4 linked regions of the Homo sapiens genome follow. The protein of the gene in region 2 purifies or fractionates together with the protein of the main gene of each other region. This does not show direct contact. Each region holds a gene or a part of one and is shown on either strand. Other genes may lie near its edges. The genes, in order: GADL1, OR7A5, KIAA1549 and SLC25A42.

Evidence for each region.
Region 1: the proteins of OR7A5 (region 2) and GADL1 purify together in Homo sapiens (affinity purification with mass spectrometry; one large-scale study listed by BioGRID and IntAct). This does not show direct contact.
Region 3: the proteins of OR7A5 (region 2) and KIAA1549 purify together in Homo sapiens (affinity purification with mass spectrometry; one large-scale study listed by BioGRID and IntAct). This does not show direct contact.
Region 4: the proteins of OR7A5 (region 2) and SLC25A42 purify together in Homo sapiens (affinity purification with mass spectrometry; one large-scale study listed by BioGRID and IntAct). This does not show direct contact.

What each region holds. Positions count from the first base shown.
Region 1 is NC_000003.12:30,860,128-30,863,697, reverse strand, and holds part of GADL1 (acidic amino acid decarboxylase GADL1), read left to right. Parts: intron 1-1,932; coding exon 1,933-2,105; intron 2,106-3,570. UniProt on the Homo sapiens protein: May catalyze the decarboxylation of L-aspartate, 3-sulfino-L-alanine (cysteine sulfinic acid), and L-cysteate to beta-alanine, hypotaurine and taurine, respectively. Does not exhibit any decarboxylation activity toward glutamate.
Region 2 is NC_000019.10:14,828,909-14,832,200, forward strand, and holds part of OR7A5 (olfactory receptor 7A5), read right to left. Parts: intron 1-3,292.
Region 3 is NC_000007.14:138,974,826-138,978,395, reverse strand, and holds part of KIAA1549 (UPF0606 protein KIAA1549), read left to right. Parts: intron 1-3,570. UniProt on the Homo sapiens protein: May play a role in photoreceptor function.
Region 4 is NC_000019.10:19,098,472-19,102,041, forward strand, and holds part of SLC25A42 (mitochondrial coenzyme A transporter SLC25A42), read left to right. Parts: intron 1-3,309; coding exon 3,310-3,415; intron 3,416-3,570. UniProt on the Homo sapiens protein: Mitochondrial carrier mediating the transport of coenzyme A (CoA) in mitochondria in exchange for intramitochondrial (deoxy)adenine nucleotides and adenosine 3',5'-diphosphate.

The sequences.
Region 1 (3,570 bases), on a different chromosome or scaffold from region 2:
ATATTTAAGATGGATTTAAAATAGAAGATACTGTGTGAGGTACAGTGCTGAAAAGTACTTTAAAAATTGTTTCTGTCAATTTCAACAATTAAATGAACATATACATTATAAGGTGGAGAAACATACTGATTAGAAAAAGAGAATGTGATTGAATCAAAGCTTGTGCTGGAAATTGGTTGAATATCTGGATTGAGTTGCCAGAATTATTTTTGTGGAGGGCTATTTTGGGTAGGCAGTAACCTTTCTTCTCAGATATAGATTTTCATGTTGACTTTTAACATTTAGTCAATGATCGGCATGTACAGTCTTGAACATGTTCCGTCTCATCCTTTTGCCTGTGCTTAAGCTGCAAGGTTGAAAAGTTTAAAGGCATTTAATACAGGCTTAACAAATCATTGTGCTGCTTTCTTTCCTCTATCACTCTCTATGTAGAAAATGGCTGAAAAATTAGGGGCTCTCAGGGACAAAGCAGTATCTGTAATATAGAGGAACATTTAAACATAGAATTAAAACATACAATTAAGATTAGTGACAAGTTTATATCGCTGCTGCTTTTTAAGGAATGATTTGTTAAAAGGGAAAATATGGTATCCCTGACAAATTACGAGAGAGAGAGAGAGTGAGTGTGTGAGTGTGAGAGAGAGTGTGTGTGTGTGTGTGTGTGTGTGTGAAACAGACATGGGCTTATGTTTACGAAGATCTCTTTGTACATGTGTTTGAAAGGTGACTGCAAGAATGAGTAAAATAGGTTACATTTACATTTCTTGGTCTCCTCCACACTCCCTGATGCTAAACAAGATGCTGCAAGAATGAAAAATACAACTTTTGTGTAAACTTTGTAATCTAGTTCATAGAGAAATTGGCCAACAGCTACACGCACCTAAAGGAAGAGGGGACATACATTTGGAGAAACATATTCATGTGTGCTAGTTCAAGAAGGAAGCAGCTAGCTCTTTGCCTTTGAAGATTTCAATATTCACTTTGTTGAAGGTGACCAGGTGATCCCTCTTAGATACTTCGATAATTCAGATACATCCAATACAAGATGGATCTTCATAAAATTCAATTTGTTATTTCAATCTGGAAATGCATTATCTCTTCCTTGAGGAAAATAAATTGTGTAAGGACAGGTGCTATTTTCTTTATCTCTGCCCAAAGCTTCATCCTAGGGCTCAGAAATGCTAAAGGACTTTGTACAAGGAAATGAAGCTAAAAGCTTGCTACCTTAATTATAGGATTTGTCTACTCAATGCACCAGATTCTGAAAGTTAAAACCACTATTGTATGATATTGTATTATTTATATTTTAAGGGGATACTGACAGCATAGAGGTGGTGTTAATTCTAGATAAAATCTGAAGGGCTTTCTCCTCATCCTTTTCTCCAAATGCCTAACTCCTGTTCCTCCATCTCGAACTCTCCTGTGGTAGAGTGACGGCTGTCTCTGAGGAAAGGATTAGGGAAATCACTTAATCATTTGTGCATGTGTAGAAATGCCAATGAATATTTACTCTCTCCTAGGGGCAGTTGCTTTGTGAATCAGCATTCTAATTATGGAAAACATTTTTTTTCAACTTCAAACACCATCTAGCATGGGAATTGTATGTGAATGGTACCTTTCCCCATCAGACCTGAAATTGCACTGAATTAGGAGGTCATATACTCCATGACTAACTCAGCCCAGTACAGAGTGACATATATAATAAGGTAGATTTACTTAATCCATAAATTGTGAGCTTTCTTTGTAAAATTTTCCTTAACTATCATACCATGGTGTGTCATAAGAAATTGTCAGCTCAACACCTCAAATGATGCCTTCATGTATTAAAAGATGTGCCATCTGAAGCTGGGATAGTGATGCATTTTGTCCCGTGCTTTGTTATGTGGTGTAATTAGATTATCTCTCAAACACAATTTGTTTGCTTGCTTCCAGGAGATATTGATCAACAAGAGATGATTCCAAGTAAGAAGAATGCTGTTCTTGTGGATGGGGTTGTGCTGAATGGTCCTACAACAGATGCAAAAGCTGGAGAAAAATTTGTTGAAGAGGCCTGTAGGCTAATAATGGAAGAGGTGGTTTTGAAAGCTACAGATGTCAATGAGAAGGTAAAAATTAAAACCTGTAAGAAATTGCAGAAATGGGAAAGATAGATGTTCCCCAAATCAGTATGGCTGAATAGAAAGCAAATGGGAAGGCCAAGTTTTTATTTCTTCTATGCCTTTGTCTCAAAAGGATGTCCAGATATAAAAGTGTAGGCTGTCCTTCAGGCAATTCCTGCTGTCCTTGAAGGGTTGCCTCCTTACTCTGCCAGTCATCATTCGTGGGAAGATTGGCTGAGACCCTAGAGCTTAATCACATAAGGACATGAAGCACAGGGATGAAACTTCCTGCACCCTAGATAATAACATAGATAAGTAACCTGCTAATCTCACTTACGCAACTCTCTAATGCTCTTTGCTCCCCATTTTCTAGTGCACACTCTTCATGTTGTTCATGAAAATCAAGCAAAAGATGGAAAAGGATGTAAAAACATTTTAAATTTATCTTAAGGTCCTTATGAAGAGCTTGTCTAAATTTAGCCTAGAAATCTTAGGTGGTTAAGTCTGACTCCTTTCTGGTACCAATTATTGGTTGTAGATTTCAAATTCAGGCTCAAATTCAATTCAAATTGATATTAGAACCGCCGCTAATGACATCTACTCTTAAGAATACTTACTATGTTCTAAGGACTACTCCTTATGCATTTAATCCTTTCAAAAGCACTAAAAGGCAGATACTATTACCCCCATTTTAGAGCTGGGAAAGAAAGTCAGGCACAAAGAGGTCAAATATGTTGCCCAAGATTATACACAAGTATCAGAGCCGGGACTAAAATCCAGGCAGTATCACTTCACAATCTGCACTCTTAACTATTCCATATGCCTCTTAAAATTACCGAATCAACCTTTATCACATTGGTTTTCATGTTGGAGGTGGATTATCAACAAATGGATGTAAGGAAGAGATTTTTATTCCAGTTATATTAGTTAGAAATAAGTATCATTTTTAAAAGATTTTGAAAGTGAGGTGATATTTATTCTGAATTTTTGATCACATGCCTTTCGGAAAACTAGTAGGAAAATAGATTGATGCATGAATTTGGAAGTTATGTTCAAGGCAAAATCCTGATGGTGTTTGGTATTTGCCCAGATAGCATATTTATAATTATATAATTTCTGTTCTTCTCTGTACTTGTGAAATACTTTGGATCTGCTTTACATTGGAGTACACTGCTCCTCTGGCAGTTTTTTTTATTGGCCTTTATTCAGTCATTAAATATTAACTGAGTATTAGCTATGACTAAAGCTTTATATTCAGCCCTAGAGAATATAAAGAAAAACAATATAAAGGCCCAGCTCTGAACAGAATTTATAATCTAATTGGAAGGATATGTTTTCATTAGAAAAGGCAGCGGGGGGTCCCAGTAAGGATGTGATAAATGCTTTGAGACTGGAACAGATTTTTGGGATTTCACTCAGGAGCGAGTACTTTGAGCTCAGATGTGGAATGTAAGTAAAGGGCAAGTGAGAA
Region 2 (3,292 bases):
AGAAAGAATATAAACAAATTAAACAATCGAATATAAACAAATTAAACAATCACATAATATGTCAGATGGGAACAGGCGCTTGGAAAATAAACAAAGCAGGTAAAAAGGAGGGAGGGTATGAAGTGTTTCTTTTGTTTTTTGTTTGTTTGTTTGCTGATTATTATTCAAGACCTGCAAACAAGGTGATGTTTGAAAAAAGATCTCAAGGAAGACAGGGCAAGATTCATGAAGTTATCTGTTGAAGTGGGTGCCTGGCAGGAGGAATGGCAGTACAAAAACTTTGAGGGATGTGCTTCTTTCTTGTTTTCTTTTTTGAGACAGAGTCTCGCTCTGTTGCCGGGCTGGAGCGCAGTGGCGCAATCTCAGATCACTGCAACCTCCACCTCCCAGGTTCAAGCGATTCTCCTGCCTCAGCCTCCCGAGTAGCTGGGATTACAGGCATGCACCACCACGCCCAGCTAATTTTGTATTTTTAGTAGAGACGGGGTTTCTCCATGTTGGTCAGGCTGGTCTTGAACTCCCAACCTCAGGTGATCCGCTCACCTCGGCCTCCCAAAGTGCTGGGATTATAGGCATGAGCCACTGCACCTGGTTGGGACGTGCTTCTTTCAGATGTTCAAGTCCAACACAGAAGCCAGTGTGGCCAGGGAATCAGTAAGACGGAGAGTGATGGGACATGGTGTCAGAGGATGTTGCAGAATAAGGGGACCTGGCTGTCAAAACATCAAGGGACAAAGTGTCCATCTGTCTAGATGCTGTTGCACCTGCACTTTATTAACTGGACTAGAAAGGTGTCACATCAATTGAAATGCATCCCCTCTTTATTTCCTTCTGGTGTCTTGGGTTCTGGCCTCTGTTTCATTGGTCTCCTTTATAATAAAATATATTGAGGCCAGGTCCCTCTTGCTCTGAAACCTGCTGTCACTCCAAAGACATGCAGCCACACACTCACTCACACACACATATACACATGCAGCACACTGGCCGAAGAGGGCCCAGGCAGGAGTGCAGTGGTGTGATCATAGCTCACTGCAGCTTCAACCACCCAGGCTCAAGCCATCCTCCTGCCTCAGCCTCCCAAGTAGTTGGGACCACAGCCATGTGCCGCCACCCTTGGCTGATTTCTACATTTTTTGTGGAGACCAGGTCTGCCTATGTTGCCCAGGCTGGTCTTGAACTCCTGGCCTCAAGTGAACCTTCCACTTTGGCCTCCCAAAGTGCTGGAATTACAGGCATGAGCTACTGCATTTGGCTCAAGGAAAGCTTTTAATATCAGATTCTTTTTTCCCTACAGAATGTAGAATTGGTACAAGAAATTCCAGTTCACAAGTCTGTATACACATGTAAACTTGGACTTCCATTTTGGTATGACTGTTTTCAGCCCTGTGTTTAAAGAAACATAAAAGAGCTGTTCAATAAACAGAGTGAGAGAAATTAAACAGACCCCAGTAAGGAAAAAGTCTAATAAACTCAGGTAATCCCTCAGCAAAAGGACAAAAATACATTGCAAGGGTGCAACGGGTAGGTTAGCAAGAAAGGAACTGACTCCAAGGAGACAAAGGCTTGCTGGGGATCTTATAGGATGGAAAATAAAAGCGACCCTGGTTATGGTTACATTTCAGCTTCCATTGTATCTCCTCGATGCCTGGCAAAATAAATAAAAGATCAAAAATAAAGAATTCTGACATCTTTATTGACTTCATGGTTTTTAATTTAACAATAGTATTTAATTATGTCGGTTTTAATGATTATTAAAGTTTTAGCTTTCCTTTTGGAACTAGAAATAAGTAAATAAAGTTATCCAAAAGACAAGACTGTGGAGTCCTAATTAGGGAAATGGAGTCAGGCTGGCTGAAGCAGGGAAAAACAAAAAGAGAAGATAGATAAGCTCTAAGTCTGCCTTTCTTCATGGTCCAGGACACACAACCCTCGTGTGCCAATGACTCACAATCTTCCTGCACCCGTCTTATCACCTGACCCTCAGCTGATGGAAAAATGCAAGTTAGCTCACTGCAACCTTGGCATTATCAGTACCGCACAAAGCCCTCTTCAGCTCGCAGCACAAGCACTATCCTATAAAATCCCCAGCAAGCCTTTGCCTCCTTGCAGTCAGCTCCTTTCTTGCTAACCTGCCCATTGCACCCTTGCAATGTATTATTATCCTTTCTCTAATTAAATTTGCCTTTCTTTATCTACAACTGTCTTGGTAAATTCTTACTGCCTACATGATGCCGGCCCCAGATAGCTGCTACCCATGACAAAAACTAATGATACCTTTTTTGGCAACAAAGGTACAGATCGCATATCCTAATAGAAAAATGGAGCAAAGAGAATAAGCCAACAATTCACAAAAAGAAACATACAAACAATGACAAGATTTGGGCATTTTTATATGAAACAGTAAAAGACTCATTTTTTTCTGTGCCTATTCCATATTTACTTGATCAATTGGTTTTTATATGAATTGAGAGTGGATGAAGCAGTCCCTTTCTCACTTTTCTTGTATTTCCTGTGTGGCCTTTATTTTATTTTATTATTTTATTATTATTTTTTTGAGACAGAGTCTCGCTCTGTCGCCCAGGTTGGAGTGCAATGGTGCAATATTGGCTCACTGCAAGCTCAGCCTCCCGGGTTCACGCCATTCTCCTGCCTCAGCCTCCTGAGTAGCTGGCATTACAGGTGCCCGCCACTGTGCCCGGCTAATTTTTGTATTTTTAGTAGAGATGGGGTTTCACCATGTTAGCCAGGATGGTCTCGATCTCCTGACCTCGTGATCCGCCTGCCTCGGCCTCCCAAAGTGCTGGGATTACAGGCGTGAGCCACCGCGCCTGGCCTATTTTATTTTTTTTTTGCTACTTGTGGACTTTGAATTTTGATCACTTTTTTGACAAATCCAATGAGCTTGTTTCTGGTCTTTGTCCAACATGAAAATGCCTGCCCAGACCATATTACATATTAAATTTTGCACACGTCATGACTATTCTATTCTATTCTGTTGTATTCTATTTATTCATTGTTGAGATAGGGTCTTACTCTCTTGCTAAAGATGGAGTGCAGTGGTGCAATCATAGCTCACTGCAGCCTCAAATTTCTGGGCTTATATAATACTCATGCCTCAGCTTCTTGAATGACTGGGACGAAAGGCATGTGTCACCATACCTAGCTAATTTTGTTCATGCTTTGTAGAGACAGGGTCTTGTTTTGTTGCCCAGGCTGGTCTCAAACTCTTGGCTTCATGTGATCCTCCCAGCTGGGCCTCCCAAAGTGCTGGAATTATAGGCATGAGTCACCT
Region 3 (3,570 bases), on a different chromosome or scaffold from region 2:
GATTAGCCATCCACAGTATAAAAACAAAGAATCATGCCCAGTTTCTTCACCTTATTCAGAGATAAGTTTTTAAAAAGTAATAGTTATTATGAAATAGATTGCTTTGTAGGGAATTTGGAAATTACTGAAAGGTACAGAAACCAGTCACCCATAATCTCACAGCCTGTAGGTAACACTAAGTAATTTTATCGTTTTTTTGTTGTTAACATTAAAAAAAGAATTATATGCACAATTGTATTTACTACCATTTCCACTCTACATTTAACTTAAGCATTTTTCCATTCATTAAGTCTTATTTGAAAACTATTTTCTATCCTAATGATTTATTCTTTTATTTCCATTTTTTGGGTTGCTGTAAGTAATGCTGATGAATAGCTACATAGAGAAGGCTCTGCTGGCCATGCGCGCTGGCTCACGCCTGTAATCCCAGCACTTTGGGAAGCCGAGGTGGGCGGATCACCTGAGGTCAGGAGTTTGAGACCATCCTGGCCAACATGGTGAAACCCCGTCTCTACTAAAAATACAGAGATTAGCTGGGTGTGGTGGCATGTGCCTGTAATCCCAGCTACTTGGGAGGCTGAGGCAGGAGAATTGCTCGAACCAGGGAGGCAGAGGTTGCAGTGAGCCGAGATGGCGCCATTGTACTCCAGCCTGGACGACAGAGCAAGACTCCGTCTCAAAAAAAAAAGGCTTTGTGCATGTTTCTTTCCGTGTGTGTGTGTGTGTGTGTGTGTGTGTGTTTTCTTGAGTATACATTTGTGGAAGGGGTATTAGAGTGTGATTAAAATGTAAGGCCCACCAGGCTGGATTTCTGCATCTTTTGTTCAAAATGCTGGGCCCCTAGTAGGTACTCAGTATGTGATTTTTGAATGAAGCAATTTTTGAAAGTTATAATGCTGACATAAGCCCTTGAAGCTTACGCAGGGGCCTTCCATTATCACTTGCATTGAGTATTCACTTCATCACTGGCATTGAATGTTACTTTAAAAGCCCTTGTTAAATAAATTTGTAATACATTGTTTTAACCTGCACGGTTTTATTGCTTTAGAATTGAATATTTTTTATTTTGTATTTGTATTCTGTGAATTTTCTCTGTATTTTTATTTATTTACCTGTTGTGGCATAGATATGTATTTAAATCTTTATGTATTAGAAGGATAGCAACCATTTTTCCTTCTATATGTTGCGTTTTCCCCTTCCAAAGGAATTTCTTTTAAATTTTACATAATTTTGAAATGTAGAAGTTTTTGGTTGTTTTGATTAGCAAGATCTGCCATTTGTTCTTTTAATAATTTTTTTATTGCATTTATGCTTATGGTGTGTGAAATTTTTTTCTTAATGTGCTGTTTTATTATTGGCCATTTCTAGGTGAATATTTATGCTTTGTGAGTCGTTTAGGATATTATAAACAAATACTTAAATGTTTCAAAAGTGTGGCCCCTAGGCCTCCTGCATCAACATCATTTGGGGATGTGGGGGTGCTTGTTAAGAATTTAGATGTCTACGACTCACCCTTAGCCTCTAAATTAGACTCTTTGGTGGCAGTGCCTGGGAATCTTCATTTTAACAAGTTGACAGCTCCGTTTTAGCCCCTGAGCATTGGAACCACTGATCCGGATATGGTAAACCCAGTAACTGAAAATTAACAGTATTTTGAAGATATAGTAGTCCCTCCTTATCTGCAAGGGATGTGGTCCAAGACCCCCAGTGGATGCCTGAAACTTTGGGTAGTACTGAAGTCTGTATATACCATGGTTTTTTCCTATATGTACATACCTGCAATAAAGTTTAATTAAAAAATGAGGCACAGTAAGAGATTAACAATAATAACAAAACAGAACAGTTCTAACAGTCTACTGTAATAAAACGTGAATATGCTGTATCTCAAAATACCTCAGAATATCTCAAAATATCTTCAAACTGCAGTTGTCCTCCGGTATCCGAAACCTTGGAGGAGGGGGACTACTGTATACCATTGGTATCTTGCAGTTGTCTTTTCACTGTTAGAACAGCTAATTTAAAATCGTTATGTTGAGGCCGGGCGCGGTGACTCACGCCTGTAATCCCAACACTTTGGGATCACCTGAGGTCAGGAGTTGGAGACCAGCCTGGCCAACATGGTGAAACCCGGTCTCTACTAAAAATACAGAAATTAGCCGGGTGTGGTGGCAGGTGCCTGTAATCCCAGCTACTTGGGAGGGTGAGGCAGGAGAATTGCTTGAACCCGGGAGGCAGAGGTTGCAATGAAATGAGATCGCGCCACTGCACTCCAGCCTGGGTGACAGAGCAAGACTCCATCTCAAAATAAAATAAGATAAAATAAGATAAGGTAAAATAAAATAAGCATTTTTTGTTACATGTTTTTGCTTGGTTTTGTTTGGGTTGGGAGTGAAAGGGTGCAGAGGACTGCATTTTCAATGCTCACTCCTGCCCGTTTGGGAACAGCTGCTGCAGTGCTTGTCAGGAAGTGCCTCACTTAATTCTGAAAACAGAACCCAGCCAGGGAGTTGTTACAAGTCACTAGGGACGTGGGAGCCACAGGTTTTCTATCAGTGCCCTGAATGATAGAGGCAGCTAATTACCGTCATTATAATTACACTAGGTTGATTTTCCCAGATAGGAAGACACTGTTCTAACTGATCTAATTTGTTTTCAAGTTGTGACCACCCACCTTTCATCTGGAGCTCACAATGATGTGATTTCTTTTTCTTGTTGTTAGGCAGCAGGATTTGTTAAAAGGTGAGTTAAAAAACCTGGGTGTGTGCAAATGCAAATCTGCCTGTAACTTTGTGACTATGGACAAGTTACCTTGTCCTGGGTTTCCTCCTCGGTGTAAGAAAGGGTTAATGAGATTAGCGCTAATCTCATTAACCCTCTAGCTCCTTGTAGCTCATTTCTCCCTGTAGCTCCTACATATCAAGTCAACATCTTGGATGTCTTGGAATGCACTTATAAGCAGCATCTGTCCTTTTTCTGTTAGGTTGTTTTGTCATTTCTCCTTGCCTGGTAGATGTTCTAGGCCCATGACCTGCTGAAGGCAGCTCACTCTCACCATTGCAGATGGCTCTTCTTTTTAAAAACTCCCTTTATTCTTCCCTCTTGCATCCACACACTCAAGACCCATACTTTGCTTTCTCTTATTCTTTCTCTTTGTCTCTTTCTTTTTTCCATCTCCTTTGTTAGCTTCAGGCAATTACTTCTCATTAGTGAAATTCTAATCTTGTGGTCCCCACACTCTGAGCATCATCACTGCCTCTTAGCTCGCATCATCACTGCCTCCACTGCCTCGTAGCTTGTTAGAAAATGCAGAATCTCAGGGCCCACCCCCGACCTTCTGAATCAGAATCTGCATTTGACAAGATCCCCCTGGTGATTTTGCATGCACAATTGAGGTTTGGGAAGCACTGGGCTAAGAGGTAAAGTGCCTTCTGTTCTAGCCTTCTGGGAATAGGTATTGTTGGAACATTGAAGGCTAAGTCAGCCTGGACTAACTCTGGAGCTATGTAAATCTCCAGAGACCTTGAGAGACACCTGCTTTTGGGACTGAGTCTGTGTAAATAGTGTGCAAGA
Region 4 (3,570 bases), 4.3 Mb from region 2:
TGTGGTCTCAGCTACTGAGGAGGCTGAGGTGGGAGGATCACCTGAGCCCAAGAGGTCATGGCTGCAGTGAGCTATGATCATGCACTTGCACTCCAGCCTGGTGGCAGAGTGGGATCCTATCTCAGAAAAACAACACAGAGTTGGCTTTGTAACGTTAAGAGCCTTGGCTGGGCCCGCTGGCTCTCGCCTGTAATCCCAACACTTTGGGATGCCGAGACAGGCGGATCACCTGAGCCTCAGGGGTTCGAGACCAGCCTGGGCAACGTGGAGAAACCCCATCTCTGCTAAAAATACAAAAATTAGCCAGGCAGGGTGGCGCGCAGCTGTAATCCCAGGTACTGGGAAGGCTGAGGCAGGACAAACAACCACTTGAACCCAGGAGGCAGAGGTTGCAGTGAGCCAAAATTGCGCCACCGCACTCCAGCCTGGTGGACAGAGCAAGACTGTCTCAAAAAACAAACAAAACGACAAACTGATAGGAGGTAACCACCGAATGGAGGAGGTGGAAGAACTCTGTCTCCAGCAGGGTGCAGGGAGGCACTCTCCATGGAATATTCCATTTGCACACAGAGGCCCATTCCAGAGGGGAGCAGCTGGTCCGACTGATTCAGAGAAGAAACTGGCCTGAAGCTGGTAAGGCCTTGGACTGCTGCTGGGACCACCAACAAGCGCCCGCAATTCTCAAAGCTCATGGAACCAGACGTCTGCAACCTGGCTGCATGTCCCAGAAAAGGCAGAGGTCCCCAAAGACAGCTTCCGAGAAGCTAGGAGAAGATCAAACTCCATGGCGAAGTTTGGCCTCAGAAACAAAATCGCTGTGCAATCTGTCCCTTTGAGGAAGGGAGGGCTGGGCTGGTGGAGGGGACCCTGGGAGCACTGAGGAAAAGGAGGCTGTGTTCTGTGGAACCAGACTGGGGGTGCAAGGCTGCTGGGTAGCCCAGGACATGTGGGAGAGGGTCTGAGAGCTGGCACCTTGCTGTTGTAAAGATAGGACTGGGAGACCAAAGAGGGCACCCTCTGCCTGAGCTCAGTCGGGCAGAGCTGGGATTCAGGCCAAGTGTGTGGACAGACTCAGGCCCAGCCCTTTACCCCGAGCCACACACTGAGCTGAGCAAACTCCAGAGGTGGGGGCAACCATGCTCAGTCTGACTCCGGTTGCCTGTTACACCTGAGTAGTGCGCCACATCCCTTCCCCATCTCCAGCCTCCACCATATCTATCCTGGGTTTCTGCAGGAGCCGCTTCTACCCTGGTCACATTTTTATTTTTATTTTTTATTTTTTCAGACACTCTGTCACCCTGTCTGGAGAATAGTGGTGCAATCACGGCTCACTGCAACCTTGGTATCCTGGGTTCAAGCGATTCTTCTGCCTCAGTTTTCTGAGTAACTAGGATTACAGGCACCCACCACCATGCCCGGCTAATTTTCGTATTTTTAGTAGAGATGGGGTTTCACCATGTTGGGCACGCTGGTCTCGAACTCCTGACCTCACGTGATCTGCCCGCCTCGGCCTCCCAAAGTGCTGAGATTATAGGCATGAGACACAGTGCCCAGCCCCACTCTGGTCATATTAAAAATAGCCCATTTCGGCCGGGCGCGGTGTCTCATGCTTGTAATCCCAGCACTTCAGAAGGCCGAGGCAGGCAGATCACTTGAGGCCAGGAATTCGAGACCAGCCTGGCCAACATGGCGAAACCTCATTTCTACTAAAAATACAAAAATTAGCCAGGCGTGGTGGTGCTTGCCTGTAATTCCAGCTACTCAGGAGGCTGAGGGAGGAGAATCGCTTGAACCCGAGAGGCAAAGTTTGCAGTGAGCTGAGATCACACCACTGTGTTCCAGCCTGGGCGACAGAGCAAGACTGTGCCTCAGAAAAAAAATAAAAATAACCCATTTATTTGGGCAAAGATCAGCCTCCTTGCCAGGCTTTGTAGGATCTAGCACCCACCTCTCTTTGCCATCTCCTTTCTCTTCTCTGGGCCCCCTCCCTTTCCCTGTGCCAGCAAATCTGCCCTCCTTGTGGTCCCCCAGGGTCCCCTGCTCCTTTTCACCCTAGCCTCTGAGTATTCATTCCTCCCCACCTAATACTATGACACACACCCCAAAGTGACCTGCACCTCATCCTTCAAGCTCAGCCTCTCACCTACCAACCCAGAGTTCTTACAGAACCCTGGGCCACCTCCTCGCGGCACCTTCCCAATGGGTGGCTGTATTTGCTTTCATCTGATGCTTCTGTTGGCATCTGGCTCTCTGTGTGGACCAGTGGCACCACGGGGACAGGAAGGGTCTTGTACACACCCCCACCCTGCACTGTGGGGCTCCAGGCCCTTCAGGATGCCCTTGCCTGGTGGGACTTCGCAGATTCCTGGGAGTCACTGAACAACCTGCCCTTCCACGTTACATTCAGACAGCAAAGCATTGCAGGCTGAGGCAGAAGAATGCTCTCCCCTGCTTCTCAATGAGTCCCATGGCCGAGTCCACTGGGGAAATGGAATCAGAGCACCTCCCATCCAGAACTTTCCAGAATGCTCTCTGCCACTTCTCAGTGAGAGTCCCGTGGCCGAGTCAGCAGGGGAAATGGAAACTCCAACCTGATGGGCAGGTGGTGCCTGTGGGATCCCACAGGGCTCGGACACACTGCTGTGCGGCGTGACCTTCCAGGGAAGGAGGGAGGGCTGTGGGGGAGCAGGGGACTTGGGCAGCTCCAGAGGACTGCAGAAAGCGATGGCTCTCAGGCTGGCATGGGAGCAGTCAACGCAGGTTGGCAGCCATCATCAGTGTCACTGTCACCCCCTCAACTGGGCTGGATGAAGAGTCATAGATGCCTACCTCTGGAGTCCTGATCGGAAGTTGTGGGAAGGGACACGCTGACACAGAGTCAGGGTCTGCTTGCCTGATACCCACTGCCAACCCCCTGACCCCAACGGTCCCTGGTGCCTGTTTTCAGTCCCTGTGTACCTACAATGCCACAGTGCCGTAGTCAGGTGCACACAGGCTGTGGAGGGAACTGAAGTTTGCACGTGGGCCAGTCCTATTGTGAGCCTGTCTCTGAGAATGTGAAACCTGCACACCTCACCTCCAAAGTGGATGGTACCTGTCATCTTGGGAGGTTTTCACTGTGTCCCCAGTAGGCTCTGTGGCCTGTGGACCCACCACAGATCACCCAGAACCAAGCAAGGCCAACATACTCAGGGTGGGGTACATCCCTCGGCCCCGGCCCAGAGGGTGTAAGGAAGGCACTTCTGGGGCAAGGTCCTCTGCGGAGCCGCCCCCCTGCCCTCTGACCTCTGATCACATGTTCTGTTGCAGCGTGACCACAGGCAAGTGCTCAGCTCCCTGCTGTCTGGGGCCCTGGCTGGTGCCCTTGCCAAAACAGCGGTAGCTCCCCTGGACCGAACCAAAATCATCTTCCAAGGTAAGTGTTGGCCATCCCCAGGTGCTAGAGAAGCTGCCAGGCGGTCACCTCCTCCTTCATGGCCCCCAAACCACGCTTCAAATTGGCTTTTATTTTTAGATTTATTTTAGAAATAAGGTTTTTTGTTGTTTTTTTTTTTTGAGACGGAGTCTCGC